7 linked regions of the Homo sapiens genome follow. The protein of the gene in region 3 purifies or fractionates together with the protein of the main gene of each other region. This does not show direct contact. Each region holds a gene or a part of one and is shown on either strand. Other genes may lie near its edges.

Evidence for each region.
Region 1: the proteins of MTM1 (region 3) and PTPN9 purify together in Homo sapiens (affinity purification with mass spectrometry; one large-scale study listed by BioGRID and IntAct). This does not show direct contact.
Region 2: the proteins of MTM1 (region 3) and PFAS purify together in Homo sapiens (affinity purification with mass spectrometry, with the first as the bait; one large-scale study listed by BioGRID). This does not show direct contact.
Region 4: the proteins of MTM1 (region 3) and MTFR1 purify together in Homo sapiens (affinity purification with mass spectrometry, with the first as the bait; one large-scale study listed by BioGRID). This does not show direct contact.
Region 5: the proteins of MTM1 (region 3) and VBP1 purify together in Homo sapiens (affinity purification with mass spectrometry, with the first as the bait; one large-scale study listed by BioGRID). This does not show direct contact.
Region 6: the proteins of MTM1 (region 3) and EDEM1 purify together in Homo sapiens (affinity purification with mass spectrometry, with the first as the bait; one large-scale study listed by BioGRID). This does not show direct contact.
Region 7: the proteins of MTM1 (region 3) and CHCHD3 purify together in Homo sapiens (affinity purification with mass spectrometry, with the first as the bait; one large-scale study listed by BioGRID). This does not show direct contact.

Annotation. Positions count from the first base shown.
Region 1 is NC_000015.10:75,463,958-75,468,279, reverse strand, and holds part of PTPN9 (tyrosine-protein phosphatase non-receptor type 9), read left to right. Parts: 3' UTR 1-4,322. UniProt on the Homo sapiens protein: Protein-tyrosine phosphatase that could participate in the transfer of hydrophobic ligands or in functions of the Golgi apparatus.
Region 2 is NC_000017.11:8,265,936-8,269,106, reverse strand, and holds part of PFAS (phosphoribosylformylglycinamidine synthase), read right to left. Parts: coding exon 3,090-3,171; intron 2,874-3,089; coding exon 2,754-2,873; intron 2,607-2,753; coding exon of another isoform or gene 2,584-2,606; exon of another isoform or gene 2,355-2,583; coding exon 2,209-2,354; coding exon of another isoform or gene 2,197-2,208; exon of another isoform or gene 2,080-2,196; coding exon 1,872-2,079; intron 1,736-1,871; coding exon 1,644-1,735; intron 1,557-1,643; coding exon 1,442-1,556; intron 575-1,441; coding exon 251-574; intron 154-250; coding exon 1-153. UniProt on the Homo sapiens protein: Phosphoribosylformylglycinamidine synthase involved in the purines biosynthetic pathway. Catalyzes the ATP-dependent conversion of formylglycinamide ribonucleotide (FGAR) and glutamine to yield formylglycinamidine ribonucleotide (FGAM) and glutamate.
Region 3 is NC_000023.11:150,669,059-150,673,903, forward strand, and holds the end of MTM1 (myotubularin), read left to right. Parts: intron 1-2,369; coding exon 2,370-2,537; 3' UTR 2,538-4,085; downstream 4,086-4,845. UniProt on the Homo sapiens protein: Lipid phosphatase which dephosphorylates phosphatidylinositol 3-monophosphate (PI3P) and phosphatidylinositol 3,5-bisphosphate (PI(3,5)P2). Has also been shown to dephosphorylate phosphotyrosine- and phosphoserine-containing peptides.
Region 4 is NC_000008.11:65,675,734-65,679,233, reverse strand, and holds part of MTFR1 (mitochondrial fission regulator 1 isoform 1 precursor), read right to left. Parts: intron 1-3,500. UniProt on the Homo sapiens protein: May play a role in mitochondrial aerobic respiration. May also regulate mitochondrial organization and fission.
Region 5 is NC_000023.11:155,226,160-155,230,481, forward strand, and holds part of VBP1 (prefoldin subunit 3), read left to right. Parts: intron 1-1,075; coding exon 1,076-1,142; intron 1,143-2,224; coding exon 2,225-2,323; intron 2,324-4,322. UniProt on the Homo sapiens protein: Binds specifically to cytosolic chaperonin (c-CPN) and transfers target proteins to it. Binds to nascent polypeptide chain and promotes folding in an environment in which there are many competing pathways for nonnative proteins.
Region 6 is NC_000003.12:5,197,372-5,201,693, forward strand, and holds part of EDEM1 (ER degradation-enhancing alpha-mannosidase-like protein 1), read left to right. Parts: intron 1-2,220; coding exon 2,221-2,324; intron 2,325-4,322. UniProt on the Homo sapiens protein: Extracts misfolded glycoproteins, but not glycoproteins undergoing productive folding, from the calnexin cycle.
Region 7 is NC_000007.14:132,791,774-132,796,095, reverse strand, and holds part of CHCHD3 (MICOS complex subunit MIC19), read left to right. Parts: intron 1-4,322. UniProt on the Homo sapiens protein: Component of the MICOS complex, a large protein complex of the mitochondrial inner membrane that plays crucial roles in the maintenance of crista junctions, inner membrane architecture, and formation of contact sites to the outer membrane.

The sequences.
Region 1 (4,322 bases), on a different chromosome or scaffold from region 3:
CCAGTCCTTTCTGTCATTCTGTGTGTGTGTGTGTGTGCACTTATGTGTATGGGTCCATATGTACGTGTGTATATAATATATATTGTATGTGATAATATGATCGTATTCTATAAATACATATACACACGATACTCCTTTCCAGAAGTTCCTGGGGCTCCGTGTTGCAGTTCAGGACTCCTTGCTTCTTGGACCCTACTATTTATCCTGGACTAGCTTGGGTTGGTGATCATGTCTCCTCTTGTCAGGCTACAGAGTGGTGGAAGAGGACACACACACATCTCCTCCATGTTCCTGCCACAGGGCCCCTTCCTTAAGTAATGACTTATCTCCTTCCAGTTGCCACCTGTTGGAGCCAAGAATGTATTAGTTTGTGGTGACACTGGGTTAGCTCAGCATGGATTTCCCTTATCCGATGATTTTTCTACATTTACTTGGCCAATTTGGGGAACAGACCTCCACTGTGATTCCATACTCTCTCTTTGCTTTCACTATCCCAGGGATGGGAGGCGGAGGGTAGAGATGAACTCACTGAGCAGCCAGAGCCAAATGCAATCGGTACGAATCTTAGAAGGAAGGAGGGGGAGCCCAGGTATGAGAAAGAAAAAACCACTAAGAAAATACCTCCCTGGGAGGATGAGCTGGGGCCCTTTTTCTTTTGCTGGATGGTTCCTTTATGCAGCTTGGCCCTGTCTACCGAGATGCCCATCTCTTCCTGCCTGCTAGCCTGCTAGACCCTCAAACTGGGTGGGTTCTGTGTCAATAAAAAGCTTCACCCCCTGGCTGAGTGAGGTGGTCCCCTGCAATCACTGTTTGTCCCCTACCCACCCAACCTGTCCCTGCCTGCTCCCAGCCCACTCATCCTTATGTGCTAGGGATAAATCAAGAGTCCTCAGCACTCCACATTCCCAAAAAATCCCAGGAACTCCTAAACCTTCCCCTGTGACAGAAGATGAGGTTGGCAGCTGATCAGACCTCAATAATTTTATACTGTAATAAGCTCTTTGAATGTGTATATTATTATTTTTTACAATCATTTCATTTTGTATTTAATATCAATGGACTGAGTCTGATTCAGAAAATAATTGTAATGTTCATATTCAATATCTTACAGTGATACAGTTTTGTATTTACATATAAATATACCGACATGATCAAAACCCTTTTAGCTTCATCAATTTAGCAGCCTGGGACATGAGGGAGGGGGTCCAGGAGCTGGTCTGGGAGGGATGAGGGAGGCAGGGAGGGACCCAAGCCTTCAGTATCTGAGACTTTGAGTTCTGACACTATGAGTTCACCTTGTCTGTAGGCCATGGCCCTATCTCTGGACAGAGGGACCAGCACCAGTTCAGTGCTTGAGATGTGCTAAGCACTATGCTAGGTGCTTTTCCCCCACCCTGCCTCATTCAAACCTCACAACAATTCAGTGAGATATTATCTTCTCTCCCTTCTCCTGTGCACCCCTTTCTCATTTCTATATAGATGAGGAAGGTGAGGTCCAGAGGGTTACAGTGATTTGCTCTAAAACGAGCTCAAGTTGGTCTGCTTACAAAGCCTGTGGTCTCTTCACTGCATGGAAGATGGAGATCTTGTGTTTGGAGAACAGAGGTTTGTTTAGCTCTCCTTTCAGAGTAAAAAAAGTTCTTAAATTCCAGGTTGTTGTTCTTGTGCCCATGCTTCATGTAGTAGACGCGAAGGGTGACAGGGTTGGTGACTGACTGTCCTAGCTAGGACCTCCTGATGTAGGGTCCTCATGTCTGCAGCGTACCAAAGGGGTTATCATTCTCCCCAGGAGACTCCATATCTATGGGTACATGGTCTTTGTGAGAAGATCTTGAGTCATTTGCATTTATCTCTTAGAAAGAAAGGAACCAGAAGCTTTGTACATGGAAGACCACTCCCCATATCATACCTGTTGGCTGTTGATGGCCTGCCCAGTTGGGGCAGTTGTGGCTGGGAAATATTGGGGTGTTCTTAATAATAGTCATAGCAGCCAATTTACTGGATGCTCACTCTATTCCAGGCACTGTTCAGAGTAATTTCTAGGTATCATCTCATTCACCCTCAACAACCTTTTGAGGTAGGTATTGACAGAAGAAAAAAATTGAGAGACAGGAATGTTAATTTGCTACAGCCAGGATCCCAGACCATCTGACTCCAAAGTATCTTCTTTCACCTCTTACACTAGACTTCCTCTAAGGATCCATCTTCTGATCTGCCAATAAATTTTTATCGAGTTTCTTACCATAATCAGGAGCTCAAGTGTAGAGCAGAAGATTAATCTAGTTCCTTCTCCAGATGAGCCTCCATTCTCTTGGGAGTGCACAAACATAAGAAGTGAACAGAGATTCTTGGAAATCTGAGAAACCAGAGAGGTCAGGGGTTTGGTGGAACATGTAAGAAATGGGATTAATGATAAACGGCCTGGAGGAGGTAACTTTAAATTGTCATTTATTTGAAGAGGCTGTAACCCGACTGCCCTGTGAATTTAAGGTTATGCATGAGTTCCTCATTGCATATCTGAAGACTGGTGAGGTTATCTATCACTTCAGCTCCATAAAATGCTGATTTCTGGGCCCATCCAGTAGGTTGTTAGTGAGTGACAGGATTATCCAGGTTTGGGAACCATAGATTTAGTTCATGTTTCTGACCCTATAGAGAGTTAACAAATTGATGTCTCCTAAATTTTCAGTAAAACTCAGAGGAACTCCTCCCACTGCCATTGTTTGTAGCTTTTACCAGCGTGAACCTACCTGTGTTAGGTGTTAAAGGAGGAGGTAAAGGAAAGGGAAGGCAGAGACGCAACCCAGAATCTGTTTGGCAAGTCAGGGTTCTCATACAGGAGACTTAGTGAACAAAGCAAGAGAAAATGCTCAGGGTCCAAGTGCAGTGGCTTTATGCCTGTAATCCCAGTACTTTGGAAGGCCGAGGTGGGCAGATCACCTGAGGTCAGGAGTTTGAGACCAGCCTGACCAATATGATGAAACCCCATCTCTACTAAAAATATAAAAATTACCCGGGTGTGGTGGTATGTGCTTGTAATCCCAGCTACTCGGGAGGCTGAAATGGGAGAATCACTTGAATCTGGGAGGCAGAGGTTGCAATGAGCCGAGATCGCGCCATTGCACTCTAGCCTGGGCAACAAGAGTAAAACTCCATCTCAAAAAAAATAAATAAATAAAAAAGAAAGACAGTGTTCAGGAAAGAAGAAAACACTGAGCTAAAGCAGGCTTCTGCTTCTGATTTGATGGCTGTTTGTTTCACCTTTCTCTAACATTCCCATGCTATATAATTTTTCAAACATGAGATAATCCCTGTGTCCTTTTTCCCATTGCTCCCTTCATCTTGCCCATCCTCATTGGCTAGGATGGGACTCCTGAGACGAAGGGTGCCCCAGCATCCTCAGCCTCGGAGGCCCACCCTTATCAGTCTTCATGTGACAGTATGCAGGTAAATGACAGAGTAGGACTTGTTCTTGGGAGAATGGACTATTTAGCATCATAGCCCTAGGGAAATTTGGTTCCTTCCCTGAAAGGAATGCTTCCTGTCTCTTGGGACAGACAGACACACATACAAAAACTTTTATAAATCAGAGACCTAGAGGGAATTGGGCCAAGAGGCATTGGCCAAGTAGAAAAGCTTCTCTAGAGTGACCCAGCTCTTTTGTGGTTTTGAGGTCTTACCACTGAACCAAACCCAAGTCCTAGGTTCCCTCTGTAAAAGAAGGGGCTACACTAGATGATCCTACCATGGGTCCTCTGACTGTCAGGGTCCAGTTCTTTGTTAGACAGTGCAAACACCCATAGAGGAGCTATTAGGCCTTTACTTGGGTTGAGTTGGCTCCCACTAGCACTCCCCACTTTTCATTTTTTTTACTTTCAGAGACAGAGTCTCACTCTGTTGCCTAGGTTAGAGGGGAGTGGCATGATCATGGCTCACTGCAGTCTCAACAACTGGGCTCAAGCAGGAACCCAGCTTTTTTTTTTTTTCTCTCTCTCTCTCTAGAGACAGGATCTCACTATGTTGCCCAGGCTGGTCTCGAACTCCAGCCTCAAGCAATCCTCCTGCCTCGGCCTCCCAAAGTGAGAGGATTACAGGCATGGGCCACCACACCCAGCCTCTCCAGTTTTAGTGTGTTTTCAGAGTCTCTTCTTTCAAGCTGCTGCTACTTCCCTAGCTTCCCTCAGTTCTCTTCCCCCTTGGCCTTCCAATTGGAGGAAAAGCAGGTCAGGTCTCTGTCATCTCCAAGACCAGCCTATAGGCCTTTAAAGTTTCCCTGTTTCTTAATGTGGGGTCTACAGGGTTTCTCAGAGGCAAAGCATGAA
Region 2 (3,171 bases), on a different chromosome or scaffold from region 3:
AGGAGCAGATGCCAGCCACGCCCCCTGGGGACCCATTGGGATTCAGAGGGTACTGCTCTGTGGGGTTCCCGTCATCATCAGCCCAGTGCAGTGGAGCCAAGCCCCTGGCCTCAATCTGAGCTTGGAGTTCCGGAGAAGAAAATGCTACGTAACCTGGGATGGAAGGAGGAGGGAAGTGAGAGCCAAGGTCCTTCATGCCCACCCTTGCCCCCAACCCTCGGGCCCTCCCCCAGCCTTCCTTGGGCCTGACCTTCCCCGTGCGCACTCCACACGGGCAGCACGGCGCCCTCCATCCCTCGCAGCATCAGGGCTGGCCCAGGCCCCACACGCACGCTGGCCCAGCGAGACTCGTAGCGCCCAGACAGGTTGTGGCGTAGCAGAAGGCCTGGCCGGGCTGGCTGGGAGTCAGGGCCCATCTCTGCAGCATCCTCATTGGGGTCGCCTCCCACCCAGCCGAGCAGAGCCAGCAGTTGACAGCCATTACACACGCCCAGGCTGAAGGTGTCTGGCCGCTTCCGGAAGCGCCTCAGCTCAGCCCCAGCCCTGGGATGAAAGGTCACAGCAGCTGCCCACCCTAGCAGGGAATAGGGAAGTCAGGGTGAGACATGGAGGACCTCAAAAAAGGGAATTGGGAATGAAGGGGCATAACTGCTCTGTTTCTTTTCTTTTTTCTTTCTTCCTTTTCCCTCCCTCCCTCCTTCCTTCCTTTCCTTCTTTCTTTTTTTTTTTTTTTTGAGATGGAATCTCATTCTGTCACCCAGGCTGGAGTACAGTGGCATGATCTCGGCTCACTACAACCTCTGCCTCCTGGGTTCAAGCGATTCTCCTGCCTCAGCCTCCCAAGTAGCTGGGATTACAGGCGCCCGCCAGCACGCCTGGCTAATTTTTGTATTTTTGCATGCCTGTAATCCCAGCTACTTGGGAGGATGAGGCAGGAAAATCGCTTGAACCCAGGAGGTGGAGGTTGCGGTGAGCCAAGATTGCGCCATTGCACTCCAGCCTGGGCAACAAGGGTGAAACTCCGTCTCAAAAAATACATATATATATATATATATATTTAAAAATATACATATTTTAATAATATATAAATAATATATATAAATAATATATTTTAATAATATATAAATAATATATATAAATAATATATATTTTAATAATATATAAATAATATACATTTTAATAATATATAAATAATATATATAAATAATATATATTTAATAATATATATTTTAATTACATATGTGTATATATATACTTTTTTTCAATGAAAAAATTAAAAATTTACTACCAGCCTTCTGTTGGCATGTGGCCCAGAACGAATGGGCCCACTCTCTCGTAGCTCGGTGGAGTGAGAGGCCAATCCCCAGCCCAGGAAGATGGGGCTAAAGGCACCTCTTCAGGAATGTGGGGGAAGGGAGTGGGCAGAAGCCTGCACACTGACCTTTGGCAGAGCCCAGGACATCTGCATAGCTGAAGCCGCCCACGAAGGCCACGCCACGGAAAGTGTCCAGCCCAATTGCCCCAGAGCAGAGGTCCTGCATGGTCACGTCCCATACCTGCGAAGGTGGGGAGGGGGAGTGTGGGTGGGAGGACACGCAGCTGAGGCTGGACAATCACCCCCAGCTGCCCCCTACCCTGCTCACCTCAAACCCAGCTAAGTGGAAGGCATCGGCCATCTCCCGGTCTCCATTACTGCCCTCCTCTCGCAAGATGGCGACTCGGGGGCTGGGACCACCTTGGGGGAGAATAAGTGTCTTTGGGCCAGAAAGTCACTTCCCCACCCCAACTCCCCAGACACCTTTCTGAGGGCAGGCCCAGGCATCCAGGCTCAGTGCCCCCAGGACGCGGAGCCTCTGCACACACTCCCTCACCAGGCTCACGGGGCACGGAGGCTTTGGGAAAGGTGGGGGGCAGGCAATAGCTGGGCCCCATCCGCTCCCTCAGGCCCCGTTCCTCCTCTGCCACACAGCGAGGCTCTGCCTGTAGCCGGTCCAGCTGGAAACTCGTCTCCTCCCAGAGGGCTCGCAGCTCCCCAACAGGCTCCTCCAGAACCACAGCCCCGTTCACTGACACCCGGACCTAGGAAGAGGAACAAATCTCCCACGGGCTAGGAGAAAGGATGGCCCCCTCCACAGTGGGAGAGGGATGGACCGCGGCCACCCCACTCTGACTGCCCACTGCACACCGCTCTCTCCCTCACTTCCTCACCATGGCGTGGGGCCCGGCCTCGCCTGTGTGGCCCAGCTCCAGGCAATGGAGGCCAGCATCCCGGTAACGCTTCAGCACCTGGGCCAGGTCTGGCTCCTGCACCTCCAGCACGAGGCCTGGCTCCTCAGCGAACAGCACAGACAGGACTGGGAGAGCAATGTGGGGAGTCAGGGGGATGCAAGAAGGGCCAAGGGAGTTGGGGCGGGATCAGGGAAATGCAGGAAGGGCCAGGGTGAGGGTCAGAGGGATGCAGCCAGAGAGTAGGGTAGGGATCAGGGAGGATGAGGGCTAGGACGGCAGGACTGAGGATGTTTCATCATGGACATCTCAGGGATGGGAAGTCTCAGAGGGGTGCAGTCAGGAACATGGTGGGTGTCAGCCAGTTCCATCCAGTTCAGCTGTCAGAGAGACAGCACAGAAAAGCTAGTCAGGGAAGACTCAGGGAAAGGGGACTGGAGGGCACTCCACTCTTTAATATATTGGAAATGGGGTCTGCAGGGTAGAGAAGGCAGCCCGGGCCTGAGACTAGACCCCAGGTTCCTTACCATCAACCCTGGGGACAGGCACATCCACCTGTAGCCCGCAATTTCCAGCAAAGGCCATCTCCAGCAGGCATGTGACGAGGCCTCCGTCACTGACATCGTGGCCTGAGCAGAGGAGGCGGTCTGGAGGAAGGAGAAGAAAGCTCAGCAACCTCGGGACCCAAACCTGACAGCCCCACCCCACCTTCCGGAGTCAGTCCATCAAGAGTGTGTGTCAGAATGTCAGGGGATCTGGGGTACATCGTCCATTGGAGTCCCTTTTGCCCCACTGCTCAGATGGTGAACGCCTGCTGCACGCCTGGCACCCTGTGCGCTATCTCCCCAGGGGTCTTCACTCACCTTTCAGCAGCCCCTGAGTGATGCTGAAGGCCCGCACCAAGTTCTCAGGAAGGTCCAGGTCTGGAGGGTGTTCCCCAAGCTG
Region 3 (4,845 bases):
TGTGTGTTCCCCTCTCTGTGTCCATGTGTTCTCAATGTTCACCTCCCACTTATGAGTGAGAACATGCAGTGTTTGGTTTTCTGTTGCTGTGTTAGTTTGATGAGGATGATGGCTTCCAGCTGCATCCATGTCCCTGCAAAGGACATGATCTCATTCCTTTTTATGGCTGCATAGTATTCCATGGTGTATATGTACTGCATTTTCTTTATCCAGTCTATCACTGATGGGCATTTGGGTTGGTTCTATGTCTTTGCTATTGTAAATAGTGCTGCAGTAAACATGTGTGCATGTGTCTTTATAGTAGAATGATTTATATTCCTTTGAGTATAATGGGATTGCTGGGTCTAACGGTATGTCTGGTTCTAGATCCTTGAGGAATCGCCACACTGTCTTCCACAATGGTTGAACTAATTTACACTCCCACCAACAGTGTAAAAGTGTTCCTGTTTCTCCACAGCCTCGCCAGCATCTATCATTTCCTGACTTTTTAATAATCGCCATTCTGACTGGCATGAGATGGTATCTCACTGCGGTTTTGATTTGCATTTCTCTGATGATCAGTGATGATGAGCTTTTTTTCATATCTTTGTTGGCCGCATTGTGTGTCTTCTTTTGAGAAGTGTCTGTTCATATCCTTTGCCTACTTTCTGATGGGGTTGTTTATCTTTTATTTTTATAAATATGTTTAAGTTCCTTGTAAATTCTGAATATTAGACCTTTGTCAGATGAGTAGATTGCAAAAATTTTCTCTTATTCTATAGATTGCCTGTTCACTCTGATGCTAGTTTCTTTTGCTGTGCAGAAGCTCTTTAGTTTAATTAGATCCCATTTGTCAATTTTGGCTTTTGTTGCAATTGTTTTTGGTGTTTTTGTCATGAAGTCTTTCCCCATGCCTATGTCCTGAATGGTATTGCCTAGGTTTTCTTCTAGGGTTTTCATGGTTTTGGGTTTTACATTAAGGTCTTCATATATTGCTTAAGCTTTCTAGAAAGTGCTTGCCCCTGATCCCTTCAAAACATTAACTTTCTGGAGTACTGTTCTGTTGTATATCTTGACCTGGGTGTGATTACCTAAATGTATACGTATGTCAAGATTCACTGAGCTGAACATCTGAAGATTTTGCACTGTGTGTGGTTTATATCTCAGTACAAAACTTTTAAAACTTAACATGCTGGGAGAGTCACGTTATGCTCCAGCCTGACTTCTGCCTTTGTATCAACATCAATCCCTTGTTTACTCATCAAAGTAGTCACCATTGTAGCAAAACAGATGCTATTAACTCACTTCACTCACACAATGCCATGTGAGGGCTATGCTGTTTTGATTCCCATTTTACAGATAGGGAAATGGAGGCACACAGAAGGTGAGGGGGCAAACCCAGCATTCATACCCAAGGCGGAGCATTGCAGAGCCGCTATGGCTGTCAGCCATGTATTCAGATGGGCAATAAGCACATGAAAAGATGTTCTAGCAGAGCAATACAAACGAAAACTACCGTGACATACCATGTCACAGCCCTCAAATTGGAAAAAAGAATAATAATCGTATGCTCCCAAGTTCTAGTGAGAATGCAGAACAATGGGAACTGCCAGGTATCACCAGCAGGAGCCTCTCTGCAGGCAATTTGGCAGCATCTGGTGAGGTTGAAAAGACCATATTCTACTTCTCAGCAGTTCCACCCCTAGGAAAATTCCTTAGAGAAACACTCGCATATGTGCTTGAGGAGATGTGTACAAGGATACTCAGTACAGCATTGAACACACTACCGAGGAGCCCTGGAAATCACTGATTACCCATCAGCCTGGGAAGGGGTGGAGAAACTGGTTTATTCCTTCAATGCAACTTAACAAGGATGAAATTCAGAAAACATGTTGGGTCAAAATGTCAATTGATAAATACCAGATGGTACCAGTGATGTAAACTTTGATAAAACACAAAGTAATACTGTATTTTGTTGCTGGATACTCACAGGAAAAGTGTCACAAATCTGCACAAAAAGGAAGGTCACATGGCAACTTGAGAAGAGTTGTCCCTCAGAGTGAAAGAGGACAGTGGGTCTGGGACGGGCAACACGGGAGACTGGAGCTGTGTCTCGGCTGACACATTTTCAAAGATAGTGACACGTGTGAGGAAATGTGTACATTAGGTATTTCTTGGTGAACAAATACTTAGTACTTGGGTGTTTAGTACTCTGTGTTGTACTTTCCTGTATGTGTCAATGAGGCAGTAGTTAAGGAAAGTATGTATTATGGTAAACTTTGAGTAAAGGGCTTATTTACAAATCAGCAGTCACAGCAGATGGGTGGAACACGTGAGTTCTCATGACGTGCGTGGCATAAAGTGTAACTCAAGTCTCTGGTTCTCTCCAGCAGCCGAATCCAGTGGAGCAGCGTTACATGGAGCTCTTAGCCTTACGCGACGAATACATAAAGCGGCTTGAGGAACTGCAGCTCGCCAACTCTGCCAAGCTTTCTGATCCCCCAACTTCACCTTCCAGTCCTTCGCAAATGATGCCCCATGTGCAAACTCACTTCTGAGGGGGGACCCTGGCACCGCATTAGAGCTCGAAATAAAGGCGATAGCTGACTTTCATTTGGGGCATTTGTAAAAAGTAGATTAAAATATTTGCCTCCATGTAGAACTTGAACTAACATAATCTTAAACTCTTGAATATGTGCCTTCTAGAATACATATTACAAGAAAACTACAGGGTCCACACGGCAATCAGAAGAAAGGAGCTGAGATGAGGTTTTGGAAAACCCTGACACCTTTAAAAAGCAGTTTTTGAAAGACAAAATTTAGATTTAATTTACGTCTTGAGAAATACTATATATACAATATATATTTTGTGGGCTTAATTGAAACAACATTATTTTAAAATCAAAGGGGATATATGTTTGTGGAATGGATTTTCCTGAAGCTGCTTAACAGTTGCTTTGGATTCTCTAAGATGAATCCAAATGTGAAAGATGCATGTTACTGCCAAAACCAAATTGAGCTCAGCTTCCTAGGCATTACCCAAAAGCAAGGTGTTTAAGTAATTGCCAGCTTTTATACCATCATGAGTGGTGACTTAAGGAGAAATAGCTGTATAGATGAGTTTTTCATTATTTGGAAATTTAGGGGTAGAAAATGTTTTCCCCTAATTTTCCAGAGAAGCCTATTTTTATATTTTTAAAAAACTGACAGGGCCCAGTTAAATATGATTTGCATTTTTTAAATTTGCCAGTTTTATTTTCTAAATTCTTTCATGAGCTTGCCTAAAATTCGGAATGGTTTTCGGGTTGTGGCAAACCCCAAAGAGAGCACTGTCCAAGGATGTCGGGAGCATCCTGCTGCTTAGGGGAATGTTTTCGCAAATGTTGCTCTAGTCAGTCCAGCTCATCTGCCAAAATGTAGGGCTACCGTCTTGGATGCATGAGCTATTGCTAGAGCATCATCCTTAGAAATCAGTGCCCCAGATGTACATGTGTTGAGCGTATTCTTGAAAGTATTGTGTTTATGCATTTCAATTTCAATGGTGTTGGCTTCCCCTCCCCACCCCACGCGTGCATAAAAACTGGTTCTACAAATTTTTACTTGAAGTACCAGGCCGTTTGCTTTTTCAGGTTGTTTTGTTTTATAGTATTAAGTGAAATTTTAAATGCACAGTTCTATTTGCTATCTGAACTAATTCATTTATTAAGTATATTTGTAAAAGCTAAGGCTCGAGTTAAAACAATGAAGTGTTTTACAATGATTTGTAAAGGACTATTTATAACTAATATGGTTTTGTTTTCAATGAATTAAGAAAGATTAAATATATCTTTGTAAATTATTTTATGTCATAGTTTAATTGGTCTACCAAGTAAGACATCTCAAATACAGTAGTATAATGTATGAATTTTGTAAGTATAAGAAATTTTATTAGACATTCTCTTACTTTTTGTAAATGCTGTAAATATTTCATAAATTAACAAAGTGTCACTCCATAAAAAGAAAGCTAATACTAATAGCCTAAAAGATTTTGTGAAATTTCATGAAAACTTTTTAATGGCAATAATGACTAAAGACCTGCTGTAATAAATGTATTAACTGAAACCTAACACTGTTTTCAGGGCTGTGAGTGTGCATGTGTTGGAAATGTGCATGGTGGCCATCTGATTTCTTTGCCCGGGTCTGCTTCATGTACTTTTTATCTCACCGGCAACCTTGCAGGGCTCTCCCAAAATTTCAGCAAGATTGGGCATTTAAGTGTATTAAACAGTGCAGATTTTAAGAGTCACGACTGTCTATGAGGATGGCTTTTGCAAAAGTGAACGCGCAAAACTCCAGGCTCTGAATAGGGAACACAGCAGTTGATAGTAAGGGATGCGAAGATACTGGTTAAATAAGCCATAGTTGACGTCTCATTAGGTAAGAATTTTTAAAATTCTTCAAACAATATTGCCAGTTGGAGATTATGTCGTTTACATATGTACGTTCTAAGAATGCTGAATAGTTGTAGCAGTAAACTAAAATTGACCATTTTTTGGCAATCAGAATAGATCACGTGGAACAGAGCTTAAAGAAAAAAAATCAGAATAGGACTCTTAAATGACTAAGTGTATCTTTCATAACGATGAGTATTTGAAGTGCTTTGTGAAGTCCTTCCTCAGACATTGCCTCATTGAACCCTCACTAGGACCTTATGAGCTAGGGGGCATTCTGTTACCCCTATTTTTCGACTGAGGAGAATGCTGTTGTTGCAGGCGTTCACTGACATGCCCCACGTCCTACAGCACCACCACAAGTTTCATACTGGTGTTAGCCTGAAGTCTACATTTGAGTTCCCACTGAATGGCCTGAGCTCTGCCTTCTTCATTG
Region 4 (3,500 bases), on a different chromosome or scaffold from region 3:
GTCTTCTATTTAGTCACAAGTCAAAATTCTCCTATGATGTAGTACAAGTGGAATGCTATTTGTGCATTACAACGTGACAATTAGACAGTCTAAAGTGAATCTTTCTCCCCTCCAGCAAGCAAAGGTCTTGTCTGGAGATGAAGAGGACAAAAAGCTCACAAAGAAAAATTTAGAAAGGATTTGCCAAGGTCAGGAACTATGTTTCTGCCTGCTTTTAGCATTCTTCACTACGCATGTTGCAGGGTGAAATGTCAACTATTATGTTTCCATCTGTTTAATATCAGAAAAATACTAGGTGCCTTCAACAAGAGAAGTGGCCAATGATTCAGCTTTTTTTTTTAAATTTTTTTAGATGGAGTCTCGCTCTGTCACCCAGGCTGGAGTGCAGTGGTGCGATCTCGGCTCACTGAAACTTCCATCTCCTGGGTTACAGCAATTCTATCTAGCTAGAATTATAGGCAGGTGCCACCATGCCCAGCTAATTTTTGTATTTTTAGTAGAGACGGGGTTTCACGATGTTGGCCAGGCTGGTTTCGAACTCCTGACCTCAGGTGATCTAATCGTCTCGGCCTCCCAAAGTGCTGGGATTACAGGCATGAGCCACAACGCCCAGCCGATTCAGCTTTTAATTATAAGGAATAAGTAGATTATTTAGGTATCTTCTACAAAGTTAAAGGAAGGAAAAGAACAGATTGCTTTATGTGATTATTTTTTCAAGCATACACAGTAGACTAACATAATGTGTTCTTCTGTTACTTGTGAATTACATAGTACTTAGCACCAATAAATATCAAATAAGGGTCTGTGTAAACTAATGACTGAAATATTTAGAATGAAGAGCCATAACCTTTATTGGATGGTAGGAAAAAGTGAGGGGAAAGAATAGCTAATTTCCAGGAACTCTAAAACTAGGTCTGACTACTTTTCTATTTTTTTCTATTCAGCCCTCATAGAGGGGGAGAAATTGTAAATGGCTGTACAGAAACAGTGAACAGATGGTACTGAAAAGTCACCATCTGTGCATTGGGAGGCTGTATGACCCAAGTGCATCTCCTACCGTAACTTGTGGCTGAACTATGTCTTGTCAGTATGCTAGTTTAGAGAAGGAAAGACTTCCTCTAAAGACAAACTGTCATTAATATTTCTTTAGATGAAAGAGAGAAGGCAGGGAGAAGAAAATGGTCATAAAATAATCCAATTTCTTTTTTTTTTTTTTTTTGAGACAGAGTCTCCCTCTGTTGCCAGGCTGGAGTGCAGTGGCATGATCTCAGCTCACTGCAACCTCTGCCTCCCAGGTTCAAGCAATTCTCCTGCCTCAGCCTCTCCAGTAGTTGGGACTACAGGCACGTGCCACCACACCTGGCTTATTTTTGTATTTTTAGTAGAGACGGGGTTTCACCATGTTGGCCAGGATGGTCTCGATCTCTTGACCTCATGATCCACCCACCTCAGCCTCCCAAAGTGCTGGGATTACAGGCGTGAGCCACCAAGCCTGGCAAGATAATCCAATTTCATTTAGAAAATAAGACAATCCAATGCCATTAAGAAATAGCTGGCTGGGCGTGGTGGCTCACGCCTGTAATCCCAGCATTTTGGGAGACCGAGGTGGGCGGGTCACGAGCTCAGGAGTTCAAGACCAGCCTGGGTAACACGGTGAAACCCTGTCTCTACTAAAAATACAAAATTAGCCAGGTGTGGTGGTGCACGCCTGTAATCCCAGCTACTCAGGAGGCTAAGGCAGGAGAATAGCTTAAACCTGGGAGGCAGAGGTTGCCGTGAGCTGACATCGTGCCACTGCACTCCTGCCTGGGACAGAGCAAGACTCCGTCTCAAAAAAAAAAAAAAAAAAGAAACAGCTAAACAGGGCCAGGCGCAGTGGTTCATGCCTGTAATCCCAGCACTTTGGAAGGCCGAGGCGGGTGGATCATCTGAGGTCAGGAGTTCGAGACCAGCCTGGCCAATGTGGCGAAACCCCGTCTCTACTAAAATATAAAAACTTAGCCAGGCGTGGTGGCACACGCCTGTAGTCCCAGCTACTCAGGAGGCTTGAGGCAGAATTGCTTGAACCGGGAGGTGGAGGTTGCAGTGAGCAAGATCGCGCCACTGCACTCCATCCTGGGTGACAGAGCGAGACTCTGTCTCAAAAAAAAAAAAAAAAAAAAAAAGAGAGAAATAGCTAAACAGAAAAACCATGCTTTATCTATGAAAACTGCTTTTTTAAATAATCTAACAGTGAATCTGTGTGTGTGTGTGCGCGCACATGCATGTCTGTGTCTAGTAATGACAGTCCATAACATTTAGCAACAGTGTTTGAAAGTGATGACAGCAAGGAGGAGGATGACAACAGGAAAGTAGTTTGTTCTTTTTTAACATTGTGAAATGCTATTGTAGAAAGTGTTGACGTGTGAGGCTGGAATCTGAAGCTGTCATCTGTCTCATCCATGATGACTGCACTCAAGCTGTATGTGGTAATTCATTTATTATAGACTAGTTTTACATACATTATTATTTGAGGGCAACTTTTAGCAGGAAAAACTATAAATTTAACTCTAAGAAAAATATGTTTTTCTGGCTGGGTGTGGTGGCTCACGCCTGTAATCCCAGCACTTTGGGAGGCTGAAGAGGGTGGATCACTTGAGGTCAGGAGTTCGAGACCAGCCTGGCCAACATGGTGAAACCCTGTCTTTACTAAAAATACAAAAATTAGCCAGGGGTGATGGCGGGCACCTGTAATCCCAGCTACTCAGGAGGCTGAGGCAGGAGAATCACTTGAATCCGGGAGGCAGAGGCTACAGTGAGCCAAGAATGCGCCACTGCACTCCAGCCTGGGACACAACAAGATTTCGTCTCAAAGAACAAACAAAAATAAATAAAATATATTTTTCAAGACAAGCTATGTGATATTAATGCATTAATGCAGAGGTTCATGTATCCCTAAAATTACACACAAAATTGTGTATGTGTTACTTTTCTGGGAAGAGCATCCATACTGTTAATCAGATCTTTAAAAAGTTAGGACCCAACAAAATGTAAATTCTTAATTCTCAGGGAGCTAAGGGAAAATTAAAAGTGTGTGTTGGGAAGGGGGAAGGAGTGAAAATGGGAAGATGAAATTCTGTAACAATTTTTAAATCCTTAACCAAAGATTAACACTTCCCTCAGTTCTCTTCTTCCTTACTCACATTCCTCCTCCAAAGCACCAAAAGAAAACCAGAGTACAATAATACAAATTATTATAGATACTTGCTATAGTAACTTTTCTTCCAATATAAAATACTGAAATTAATCAGAATCACATTAGCTTCACACTATTCTCACTTCCTGCAATTTAAAAAACATTTTTGCTTAGGGACATAAAAAGTTTGGAGATATGTGAGCATGTAGTTTTAAATTCAAACAAATGTTGAGGGAAAATAAAAGACAGTAAAGAGAAAACAGGCCATTATAGCATATAGGCCTGGCTTTAAAATTAGCCTCTACGAATTTACTGCCTGTATAAA
Region 5 (4,322 bases), 4.6 Mb from region 3:
ACCCTAGAACTGTTTTGCATATATCTCCATGCAAAACACATGCATCTAATTACCATAAAGAGCTAAACCCCAGTGACAAAAACGGTATCATTGTTTTCTCTCTTTAATTGACTGAATGTTTTTAGCATACTGTTTTTCTCTTATGTTCTTGTCAGTGAGGTTGATTGCATTTGGGAGTCACTTACTAGCATTTTGCTAGTAGCTATCATATAACTTATCCATTAAGTCGGATCAGTTGTATCATGTCCATCATTGTTTTTTTAAATTTCTTGTGTTTAAATCAGTGATCCATTTATAATTTTAAGAACGATCGTTACCTCATTTGAAAAGAAGAGCATTTATCAACATAAAAGTTAAGGAAGAAATACCCAAAGCTTAAAAGAATCACTAAATTATACTGTATCATAATGTGGTGTGTTTGGCATTCAGATGATTCTGTACATTTTTCACAGTGTGACAAGTGCACATACTGAGAAGGTGTCACTGTGCTTTGCCTGGCATTTAGCTGACTGTGATGTACATGTGTGTATACCCAATGCACACACCAGGAGTAGCTATGTGCATCACTGGATAGGGGATTGGTGTCTTCTATTTTAGAATGTAACTTTTGAATCCATGTTATTTTTAAAATTAGTTTTAAAATTAATCTATTTAAAATTTCATTCTAATCAAATGCAGAACCTATGAATCACCTCTGTGGAATATAGTCTGCTCTAGAAATGTTAAATAGCCATGGGGTATTTGACATAATAGAACAGAGCTTTGTCTTCATGGAATGGGCATTCCATAAACATTCACTAGTATATCTTAAATATTTTTATTAAGTATTTATACTTTAAATATTTTATGAATATTTTACTAAATATATTTTCTTTTGGTGAATATTTCTTTAAATATTTTATTTTTATAAATATTTATATCTTATTTTATCTCATATCTAAAAATATCTTAAGTATTTTATATCTATAAATAGTCCTCAAGAACACATTAGTAGAAAATGCAAAGTTAGTAAGACCGTGTCCTGTTGTTTATTTTTGCCTGCAAAATACTAAGTTACTCTTTTTCTTGTTCACAGGCTAAAAGGTCAGATTCCTGAAATTAAACAGACTTTGGAAATTCTAAAATACATGCAGAAGAAAAAAGTAAGTGCATTTTTGTTTGTAAATATGAGCAAGCTAGGATATGTCAGCAGAAACTCGTCTTCTTTGACTCTTTGGTCACTGATATTTGATCTGTGCTGTGGAATCCAGTCTGCCTTCTTAAGCACATACACTAATGTTATGATGTGCTTCTGTAGCAAATGTGGCTTTGTGGCCTTCCCCCAAAAGTCAAGTTTAATTCTAGGGCCCACACTTGGATTACTTTGCTTATCTTTAGTGCTTGTGAAACTTAAATGCAATTTGAAATTGTTTTAGGTGTACAAAGAAAATGTCTTATTCTGTGCTAGCAGCATCTAGGGTTTTTTCTTTGTTGTTGTCTTTCTCCCTAAGAATAAGGAGTTAGTCCAAGATTTATAGAGCTGGAACGAATCTTAGAGATCATCTGTTACAGGTTCTCATTTCATAGTTGAGGAAATGGTTATGGAGAGGTTATACTCGACCATTGTCTATGTAGTTAGTTACTGGCAGAACTAAATTTGAGAGTCTTCTAAGTCTTAATCCAGTATTCATTAAATAAAAGCAGGTTGTAAAGATTAAATCTCATAAGCATATTGTATTTAAAAGATTGTGTGTATGCTTATGATTTTGCTTGACTGGTAGAATAACTATTTCTAGTACATTTTAATATGTGGTGAACTTTGTAAGACTTCAGCAACTGATTGATTGGGCATGAAGCACCAATGAAATAATAGAAGAATGGCTAATTCTTACAATAATGCCTTCTCTGTATGTCAGGCACTCGGGGGTGTGTGTGTGTCTGTGTATACTCAGTGCTTACCACTGACTTCATAGGTGTAGGGACTGTTGTAATCCTCATTTTACAGATGAAGAACCTGAGATATAGAAGTTAAGTGAGATGCCAGATTTGTACAGCTAGTGAGTAGCTGAGCCAGAGTCCATACCCAGCCACCTGGGTCTAGCATTCATTTCTTTTACCACTACACTTAGCCTGCATGATGGTACTGTTTTAAATGTCCTAGGTTCAACTGTGCAATCTCTCCTTTATAACCTTGGTATCAAACTGGCCTGTTTATGGTACTGTCATTTTTTTTTTTGTTTTGAAGGAGTCCACCAACTCAATGGAGACCAGATTCTTGCTGGCAGATAACCTGTATTGCAAAGCTTCAGTTCCTCCTACCGATAAAGTGTGTCTGTGGTTGGGGGTAAGTAAATGTTATAGCCACAGCTGATATATTTGTAAACCAGTGTGTTTTCTGTAGCAAACACACTGGTTTTGCTAGTATTTGCTAGTATTTTAGTAGTATTGCTCGAGATATGTAAAGTGTTCATCTCCTTTTGATTGTGGAAGGGACAAAGGGACAGAGTCCAAGTGGTTCATATTAGAAATTGACTAGAATCAGAAGTGCGATGAAGATCGCAGTAAAAACATACTGAAGTCTCTCCCAATCAAGATAAAACTGATCAAACAAACCCTGCTTCTCTTCCAGTTAGTGCTTTATCTCTCTTAAATATAATGGAGGAAGAGCAATAGAAGTAAAATAGAAGGTACTGCTGAACTTTAGATAAACGCTTCTTCCCATAAGAGTTTAATAATTCTAGAAAGATCCCTCTCAATTTAAGGGGAAAAAGAGTATTGCAAAAAGTTTGAGGTTAGAGTTTATTTTTTAAAACCATGTATTTCAGTTTTAGATGATTTCATTGAGCTTATCTGTGATTTACCTATTTTGCTCTTCTCAGTCCTCTGACTATCCAGCTACCTGTCTGTGGATCTTGTTACCTCAGGCAAGTTCTCATACAAAGTAGCAAGCCAAGTGTACTTCTACCAGCTGTCCTACGGGGAGGATTTCCCCTAGCTGCTGTCCTGTAGGATCACTCTGGAGAGGCACTCTAGATTAGCCCAAGGAGGTTTGCTCAAAGTTTGTACAACATTTATATTTCACTCTACAATCTGCATTTCAGTATTTATCTTTTATAATTTATCACTAAGGCTTTTTAAAAAATAACTTTGAAGCATAGCAACTACACCTGAGTGTCCAAGGATTCAATGATTTTCTGTATTCAGTTTTTTTGTAGAAATTGCATGACCTTTTGATTCACAAATTCAAGTGTTACTTTATTTCAGGAAAGATAATTTCTGTTGTGTACTTGAATGTGACTTTTGCCCCATTTCTTTTATTATCTTTTGGGAATAATAAATATGCATATGTTCGATCTCCTTTATCTGTTTTCAGTACCTATCATGTTCTCTGTTTTCAGTTATTCGATGTGTTTCATTCTGTGTGATTTCCTCTGGCTGCTTCCCCATGACTTTGTGTTTTCCCTGGTAGTTATTCTGTTTTGTTGCTTTTACTCTGTCTTTTGTAACTGTTCTTCTGTTTCTCTTTCTCTTCATTTTCTTTGCTGAGCTCTTCTTGCTCTTTTCATGTTTTTCTTCTTTCATTCCTCTTGAATGTTTAAATCCTCATTTCACCACTCATAGACTGGCACTTCCCACAATCTTCTCCATCTCAGTAAATGGCAGAATCTTTTGCCTGGTTGCTCAGAACAAAAATCTTTGAGTCTTCTTTGACTCTTCTTTATTTTATATCTCTCAACCAGTCCTTCAGCAAACCCCACTGGTTCCTTCTTCTGAATAGATTGAGAAGCCAACTATCTCTCACTTCCTTACTGCTGTTACCATGGTCCAGGCCACCTTTGTCTCTTGCCAGGACTGTGGGAATACTGTCTATTAGTTTTTAGGGATGCCATAATAAAATTACCACAAACTGGGTGGCTTTAACAACTGAAATGGACTGTCTCATGGTTCTGGAGGCCAGAAGTCCGTGATGAGCCCCAGAATCAGGGTCGATTCCTTCTGAGAGCTGTGAGGGAAAATCTGTTCTAGCCTCCTCTCTTAGCTTTGGTGTTCGCGGACAGTCTTTGGCATGTTGATGTGTAGAAGCATCACTGTGATCTCCGCCTTCATCTTCACATGTGTGCATGCATGTGTCCAAATTTCTCCTTTTGAAAGACCTTATCTCCAAATAAAGTCACATTCTGAGCTACTGGGGGTTAGTAGTCCAACTTATTTTTTGTTGGGGAGACAGAATTCAATCCATAATACCTTACTTCCACGTAAGGTCACATTCGCTAGTATAAGGGGTTAAAACTTAAATGTATCTTTTTTGGGGACACTGTTTAACCCATAATAATACCCTAATT
Region 6 (4,322 bases), on a different chromosome or scaffold from region 3:
AAACAAACCCATTTAGCTCCTCTGTCCCATTCAGCCATTTTCAAACATTAGTGTGATTTCAGAACATAGTCACTCAGGATTCTATAGCTATCTGACCATAATGATAAACTACAATAAGTAAGAGCTGTTGACTTCCTTCACCTTCCTCACTTGATTTGAGCTCCTGTCAGCACCTGCAGCTTCACCAGATATTGTTGCTGGTAAACATCTGTAAGGAAACAGACTCATCTCTGTGGTTTTCATTGTAGAATATCCGGCCTTTAGTGCTTCAGGCTTATTTTTCAGGTGTTACTTCTGTTGAAGTTTTCCTTTTCTTTTGCTAACATTTAAACAGGCTTTAACAGATGTGCTAGGGAAACACTGTGAAGATAGCAGTCCCCTGACCATTGGATGCAACTTGCAGCATTATTGCATCATCTTCTAAAAAGAAAGAACTGAAAGCTAGAAATGTCTGTACTTACTCTGTAGGTTACAGCAAAATAACGATGAGGTGGAAAAAATGTAGTTAGGCACAGCTTGGTTTTATACATTGTAGGGAGACATGAGACATCAATCAGTATGTGTAAGATGTACATTGGTTCAGTCCAGAAAAGTGAGACAACTTGAAGTGCTGGGGGTGGGGTGAGGGGGCACTTCCAAGTCACAGGCAGATAAAAGACAAATGGTTACATTTTTTTTGTCTTTTTTTTTTGAGACAGAGTCTTGCTGTGTTGCCCAGGCTGGAGTGCAGTGGTGAGATCTCGGCTCACTGCACCCTCCACCTTCCCAGGGGTTCAAGCAGTTCTTGTGCCTCAGCCTCCCGAGTAGCTGGGATTACAGGCATGCGCCACCACGCCTGGCTAATTTTTTGTATTTTTAGTAGAGACAAGGTTTTGCCATGTTGGCCAGGCTGGTTTTGAACTCTTGGCCTGAAGTGATCCGCTCGCTTTGGCCTCCCTAAGTATGGGCTTACAGACCTGAGCCACCGTGTCCAGCCGGTTGACTCTCTGATTAGCCTTTCACGGAATATACAGTTTACCTGTGACAAAGGTAGAGGAATAGTCACTTATGCCTTTGTCTGGCTTAGTGAATCTGCAGTTTTACATAAACAGTAGGGCAGAGGAAGCAATCAGATATGCATTTTTCTTAGGTGAGCAGAGGGATGACTGAGTTCTGTCCTTTGTTTGTACCTGTGAAGATAAACTGTCAATTTACATTGCCTGGGTGAAATTCAGCAGAATTGTTTTGAGGGGAAGATCTTGAGGCCCACAAGGAATTTCCTTGTAGGTAAATTGTAAGGGACGTATATAGCTTTTTTTTTTTTTTTTTTTTTTGAATCTTTGTAGCTATCTTATTTAGGAATAAAATGGGAGGCAGGTTTGCCTGATGCAGTTCCTAGCTTGACTTTTCCCTTTGGCTTAGTGATTTTGGGGTCCCAGAAATTTATTTTTCTATCACAGTATGTCCTTATGATGTCATTATAGTCTCAGGGTTGTCATAAAATTTAGAGTGGAATGAAATAATTTTGATTCAGGTTAATCTATAAAGTTTGATGCCCAACTGTGCTTCACATAGGAGAGAGTGGCTTAGTGTGACGTCGTATCTACATACCCAAAATAGGAATCATAATTCTAGATCACTTTTTAAAAAGGACATAGAGCTGATTATTCATATGTTTTGTTTCTTTTAAATCAGTCACTGGTTTTATCCTGTGCTCCAAAAGATATTACCACTATTTCTCAAAGTGTTTAGGCATCTGGATAACAATCAACAAGTTCATTCAGTTTTCCACATGTTTTGGTCTCCTGGGAGCCAAGCACCCAAGCTGCTGATTTATTTGAGGAGCAGAGAGAAAGACATATTTTTGTTTCTTCAGTTTTCTGATTTATTTGTATACCTGCCAGAAGTTTTAGAAACCACAATGCCTGGCATGTTAAATAAGATCATAGTGAAGTTTGCTGGAGAGTGGAGTTGGGAAGATGAGGAGTGCCAATGATTTTACAAGGAATTATTTTCACAGTTTTGTCCTTTGGAGACAGGACTCTTGAGTTGGAGGAAATGGGCCAGCCATGTGCTGGGAATATATGCTAAGAAATAACTGCTTTTCTGTCTCTTGTGTTTCTACTCCTATGGTAGCAAAACCACATACAGACATTTAGGTGACGTGACTGGGCTGCTGTGATGATACAGCCTCAGTTTCATTTCAAGTTGCTGTAATGACCTGTGTTCCTCTTTTTAAAGATAATGGGAAATTCATCCGAGTTCCAGAAAGCCGTCAAGTTAGTGATCAACACAGTTTCATTTGACAAAGATTCCACCGTCCAAGTCTTTGAGGCCACGATAAGGTAAAATAATGAATATTCATAAAATGAATTGGAGACTTCTTTTTATGTGTTTAAAGAAAAAAATACCTTTGAGGGTCTTTTTGCCACATGATCCAGGCAGGGAGTCCATATGGGCTTTATGGGTGCAGTGTGCATTTTTCATGTTCATATCTGTCAAAACTGGAACAATTATTTCAAAGTAATCACATTCCGGACTGAAGGGAAAGACACGTTTGTATTTTGTTTTGTTTTTATAGATTAAACTCTTTTTTTTTTTTTTTTTGAAATGGAGTCTCTGCCACCTAGGCTGGAGGGCAGTGGTGCAATCTTGGCTCACTGCAATCTCCACCTCCCAGGTTCAAGGCATTCTCATATCTCAGCCTCCAGAGTAGCTGGGATTACAGGCACTCACCACCACACCTAAGTTTTGTATTTTCAGTAGAGATGAGATTTCACCATGTTGGCCAGGCTGGTCTCGAACTCCTGACCTCAAGTGATCCGCCTGCCTTGGCCTCCCAAAGTGCTGGGATAACAGGCATGAGCCACCATGCCTGGGTACATTTATGTTTTAACGGGGGTGTAAAATAGGTGTCTGTCTAGTACAGAATTTCATGGTTTCCCTTTATAGTCTGATTTCATTTTCTTCTTTCACCGTGTCCTAGGACAACCCCTACATATTTCTGAAGGAAATGAGAGTTTCCCATCTTACCACCCACAGAAAATCACTGCTTACCATTTTAGTATATTTCTTTGTTAGGTATATCTCTCACTTCTATTTCTCTCTCTGTCTCTCTCTTTTTCTCTATTTGTTTAGTGGATTGGGATCATGCTGTATACCTAGTATATTGTATATTGCTTTTTTTGATACATTGTGGTTATTTTCCTGTTTACATCTTTTGAAAATTGTATCAACTGCATAACATTCCAGTTCACAGATGTAATACTTATTTAAAATTAAATTGGTGAAAACCTTTGTTCTGACATATATCACAGCCTACTTCAGATCTTTAGAATGGGACTTTATGGGTCTACAAGGACTTAGGTATAAGCTGGTAGCCTGCTGCCTCTTAGTAGGTCATTTTTTCCTCCTCCTCTTCACCTTGCCTCTTTACCAGATGTTACGGTGTTAGGGAAGTTGCTTGGCAGCCAAAACAACAAAAATTACTTAGTATTTGTTGTCTTACCTTTCTCTGTTTTTTTTTTTTTAATTTGAATTAAATTAAATTTTTTTTTTCATTTTAGAGCAGGGTCTTGCTCTGTTGCCCAGGCTGAAGTGCAGTGGTGCTATCACGGCTCACTGCAGCCTTGAACTCCTGGGCTCAAGCGATCCTCCCACCTCAGCCTCCCAAATAGCTGGGACTACAGGCAAATGTCACCATGCCCAGCTTCTGTTTTTTTATGAGTGTTTTCCCCAAGTGAAATAAATCAGGAGTAATTTAATAATACTAATAGGTAATATTTATTCTGAGAACAGTTAGTACACTCTTATTTTTTTTTTTAAGAGACAGGGTCCTGCTCTGTTACACAGGCTAAAGTGTAGTGGCATGATTGTAGCAGTCTTCAATTTCTAGGTTCAAGAGATCGTCCTGCCTCAGCCTCCCAAGTAGCTACTAGGACTACTGGTGTGTGCCACTACATGCGGCTAATTTTTTTTATTTTTAATAGAGACAGGGTCTTGCCTTGTTGCCCAGGCTAGTCTTGAACTCCTGGCCTCAAGAGATGCATCTCTCTTGGCAAAGTGCTGGGACTACAGGCGTGAGCCACCGCACCCAGCCAACTCCCTTTTCTTAATGCCCTAAGATTTAGATTACCAAAATTGTTACTATTTTAAATAGCATTGTTTTTGGTAGTCTCGAATAAATGATTCCCTTTCTCTCTTTTAGTAATATGGTTAACAAAAATCAATCGTGTATTCTTAGAGCTAGAAAGGAATTCAAGAGTCCATTAAGTCAGGTCTCTCTGACGTCAGGCAGTTCTGAGTCTATGTGGATATGAACATACTTCTATCTTTCTGAATTG
Region 7 (4,322 bases), on a different chromosome or scaffold from region 3:
CAGATTAAGAGCTGGCACCTTTGGGCCCATAAGCCGTAGGTAGGCAGAGGGCCAGGTTAAAAAAAAAACAAAACACCACCGTTCAGTCACTGTCCAACGCTTCCACCAGTTGATAGAGTTCACTTAGTTGGACAGGGAAAGGGAAACCAGAGATAGCATTTTAAAAAGAATTTCCACTGCTTTTATAGACCATAGCCATATTCTTCTCTTGACCCTTCATATCAGAACAATATGATGTTCACAGGACGTGCATTTTCTCTAATTTATGTACTTTAGAAAGCTAATGATAAACCCTGAAGCAAATTATCAATTCTGGCAGGTCACATAATTGCCTATCATTTAACCAATTTAACAGTTGGATATGGTTGTTCTGAGAGGCAGAAATTGTTGGAAACGTTGATTCCTTCTGCTGACAAACTCCATAGATTTGACCTTCTAACCCAACTAAATCTAGTGTTTAAGTTACACAGCATGCCTTTCTGCAGTCTAATTTGATGTAGTTATAATAATATCACTTGGTGTAAAATTTTTATACTCTACAAATATCCGACGGGAGGGTTAGTATTATCTGGATAGCTGGAAAATAAAGTAACATTAGTGGAAAGAATATAATCAAGATTTATTAAAAGCCTATGTTGTCCTCAAAAGCCTAGTGGCTGGCAGCTTTTTTCTGTTTCTTGCTTGTAGCTGCACTTGTATAACTCTTAGTAGTATGCCAGGGATCCTTTTCATTAAAGGTCTTTGGTACAGGTAATGTTGCTAATGTTAAGTTAGTACGTTTTATTTGTCGAAAACAGCTTCTGATATGCTGTTAATAAACCCCAGCCTTCAATATGAATATGAACTGAAGGACTTGAGACTCGTAGGTTGATTCATGGATTTTTCTAACTTGATAATAGTGCCTTATTGAGCTGGTGGTCAGTGGAAAAGAGTGGTTGTGACAAAGTGTATGTTTCAATGCTGGTCTCTAACATACGTGCCTGTTTGTACCATGTGATTTGTAACATTACCACAGTGGCAGCTGCAGGGGCATTGGGAGTGCTGACCCCATCCTGCCTGTCTGGGTTGTGTTGAATTATCTACATATAGTCTTGTGACATCAATGGTATATATTTATAGGATAAAGCAAAGTTAACTTGTGACAAAAGCAAATACGCCACATGGCGCGATAGTGAGTTTGAATCTGGCAGACCTGGGTTTGTACCCTGTCCTTTTACCAGCTCTGTGACCTTGGGGCTTGAGTTTTCTCATCTGTAAATTGGGGTAATGTTGTGAGGATTACCTTTATATAAAGTATTCAGTAAATCTTATTTTTCCCCTTCTTTCCTCAGTTGCATTATTGTGCTGAAATTTACTAAACAGGTCAGCCAAAAGCATCAAATTATTATTAATGATTTCAAAAGAGACCCTCTTTTTTCCCCCTCACTCTCCAATCTTTTATGTTCAGCTAGTATGTTTGGAGTATCTATTGTTTTCGTGGCTCTTATATTCAGTTATTAGGAGGTGTATAATACAAGTTAATAATAAAAAGATAGAAGCCCTCAAACCTTTTTTCCTGAGATGGGCAACATTGAAATGGACGAGAACCAAGAACCTGCACCACCTTACATTTCGGCAGTAGTTAGGATTGCAAGGTCATTTCACATCCATTCTTTTACTTGTTTTTTTATGACAACCTGAGATGTAAATAGAGATGGTTTTATTTTCACCATTTTCCAGTTGAGAGCATTGAAACTCAGGGAAGTCACAATAGTGAATTTAACAGCTAGACCAAGATGTACCTTGCCATAAAAACAAAAAATTTCAAAATACATAAGTGGCATTTGGTTTTTGAGTGGGTAAGTTTGTGAAGGGGCATCCATCCATCATCCACTAATGCAGAAATAAGGCAGTAAGGGAAAGTGAGAGCGAAAGCGATAAAGGGAGGACACAGAATGTGGAAGATCTAATGAGCGGGGGACAGAGTCTGAAGGTCACACATGGGGAGTGGGTTGATGAAGCCCGTGATGAAAGGGGCAACTTGGCACTGGCCCATTTTAAGATCACGCCACAGTGGCCAGAAGGAGCTTCTATCAGTGTTTCATGAGCAGTTACTTTCCTTCCAATACCAGGTTGTCCTTTTGCTCCTTGTGAATTTAGGCTAACCTCATGACCCCAGCTGTGCCCCTGTTAAGAGACTCCGGCAAGATACGTAGTCCCGACTGCCTATTTTAGCAGTTCCTCATGGGCCAACTTCTTACATTTTCTTCTTATGTTTCCTGTTAAATCCAGAGAACAAGCTGGACATGCTAAACATGGAAAATACTATACATGACAACAAGCCATTAGGCAGTGTTGTCCATATCCGACACAGTGCAAGGGTTTCCCCCATGGAATAATTCCAATGGCTAAGTCCACTCCACTTTTAAATAACTCATAAGATTGGCCTTTCACGGGTTCCCTGGGGCATTGTTCTAGAGACTAATAGGTTTTACTGTTAGGAAAATTTCCGGATATTCCTTAGCCTTACTCTTCCTCTCTGCTTATTTATCCACTTATTCATATCAGTGTTTCTTCAGCTGTTCTTCAACAATTTCTCATGGGTTGACATGAGACATTTAGGCTATTATTTCTTGTGTATTAACTTATGTGCTCTTCATGAGGGTAAAGAGATATTAAATAGCTCTAATTATTATTTCTAAGACTTAAAAGCTACCAGCTGGCTGGCTGTATGAGATACAGCATTTACAAAGGAAGGAGCACATCGATTGATACATAGTCCTGTGTCTTTTGTTTCTCATATCTGCTTAGCCTCATAACTTTCTCAAGCTCAGCAAGATTGGATTACCTCTTCTTACCTTTGATACCTGGTTCCCATTCTATCTTGCTACACCTACCTAAGGTAGGAGAGGTGCTGCTTGTACCAAATAGGTCATGTCTCTTCCTCTGAGCGTGCCTATGAACAGGCATGCTTATGCACACCACCTACCTTACAGGAGAAATGGAAAGGAGCGGGAATGAGAAGCCAATAGTATTTGCTCATGGGTAGACCAAAATGTGCCCAAGTTCTGTTTTTTAAAAAAGGGGAAGGGTGTCGAAAGGGTTTGCTGTCAGATCTGCATTACGTCTGGGACCATTCCCTGGGACATACCACCTCTCTACTATTTACTTGTAGAATTGGGCTGCATTGGGAGTTGCTAGTCTAAGCATTTCAGCTTTTTCCCAGCCCTGCTGCTATTGACAGAAAAATGCAGAAGCTGGCTGGACCCTTCTGGCACATTTTGTGTTCACTGGGAGGGTGGGGTTTATAGGAAATACTGCTGCTGCAATCCTAATCTAATTATAGTGACTTGAGCTTCAGTTGCTTTGATAAACTGAAGGTTTGAACCAGGTGATCCATGAGGGCCATCTAGCTCTGTTATTCTAGGACTGATTCTGCTTTGAAGTATATAGAGCAAAAGATGGTGTGCATAAGCATGCCTGTTCATAGGCGCACTCAGATGAAGAGACATGGCCTATTTGGTACAAGCAGCACCTCTCCTTTTGAGACCTCCAGTATTTGTGCCTTCGCCTCTTAAATTTTGCTGTCCACCTTAAACGTTCACTCAAGAAGAACACTTGCATTTCTGATTGGTCTGCTGCTGCCTGGCCTCCCACTGCTACGTACCCTTTCTTTGAGGTTCACACTCCTGACAGCCCTGGGGAAGCCAAGGTGGCAGAAAGAACTGGGAGGGAATAGAAACAGTTTCACAGTTTCTCCAAAGTCAGTGAAGTGAAAAACAGCTGTCTCTGCACTGGCTGGCAGAATGTACCCTGCCGGCTAATAAAGGCCATTAGAAAATGCAGGCTCCCTCCAGCCAGCCGTAAGCCTCCCCTGGATCGTGATGCCTTTCATCCTGTGAAGTACCATGGGAAGTGTGACTCTGAAAACAGAGCAGGAAGCCAGGAACCTGGAGCCTGACAACCAAGGGCAAACTGGGACCAGAGGCAAGGACCAACCCCAGGAGATGCCCAAGGGACAGAGGTCAGTGTGGGACCTGCAGTTAGATGATGAGTCTGTCAGGGGTCCCCCAAACCATAGCAGAAGTTTCAGTCAGTAAGCAGGCAGTGGGACAGTAGCCACGCAAACAGTTAGTTCAGCTCACAATAAGGACGTCTTGTAAATGAGACAGCCCCACCTCAGACCTACATGCTTCCTGCTGATCTCTTTGGAGAGATCAGAAAGGAACCTGGCCACAGTGAGGAACTTGGGGTCAGGACCCAGTAAATGAGGCTAGATCCTAATGTGACAGCTCTCCAACTTAAGGCTAGTGCACCCCGTTGTCTCGTTTCTAAAATATCAT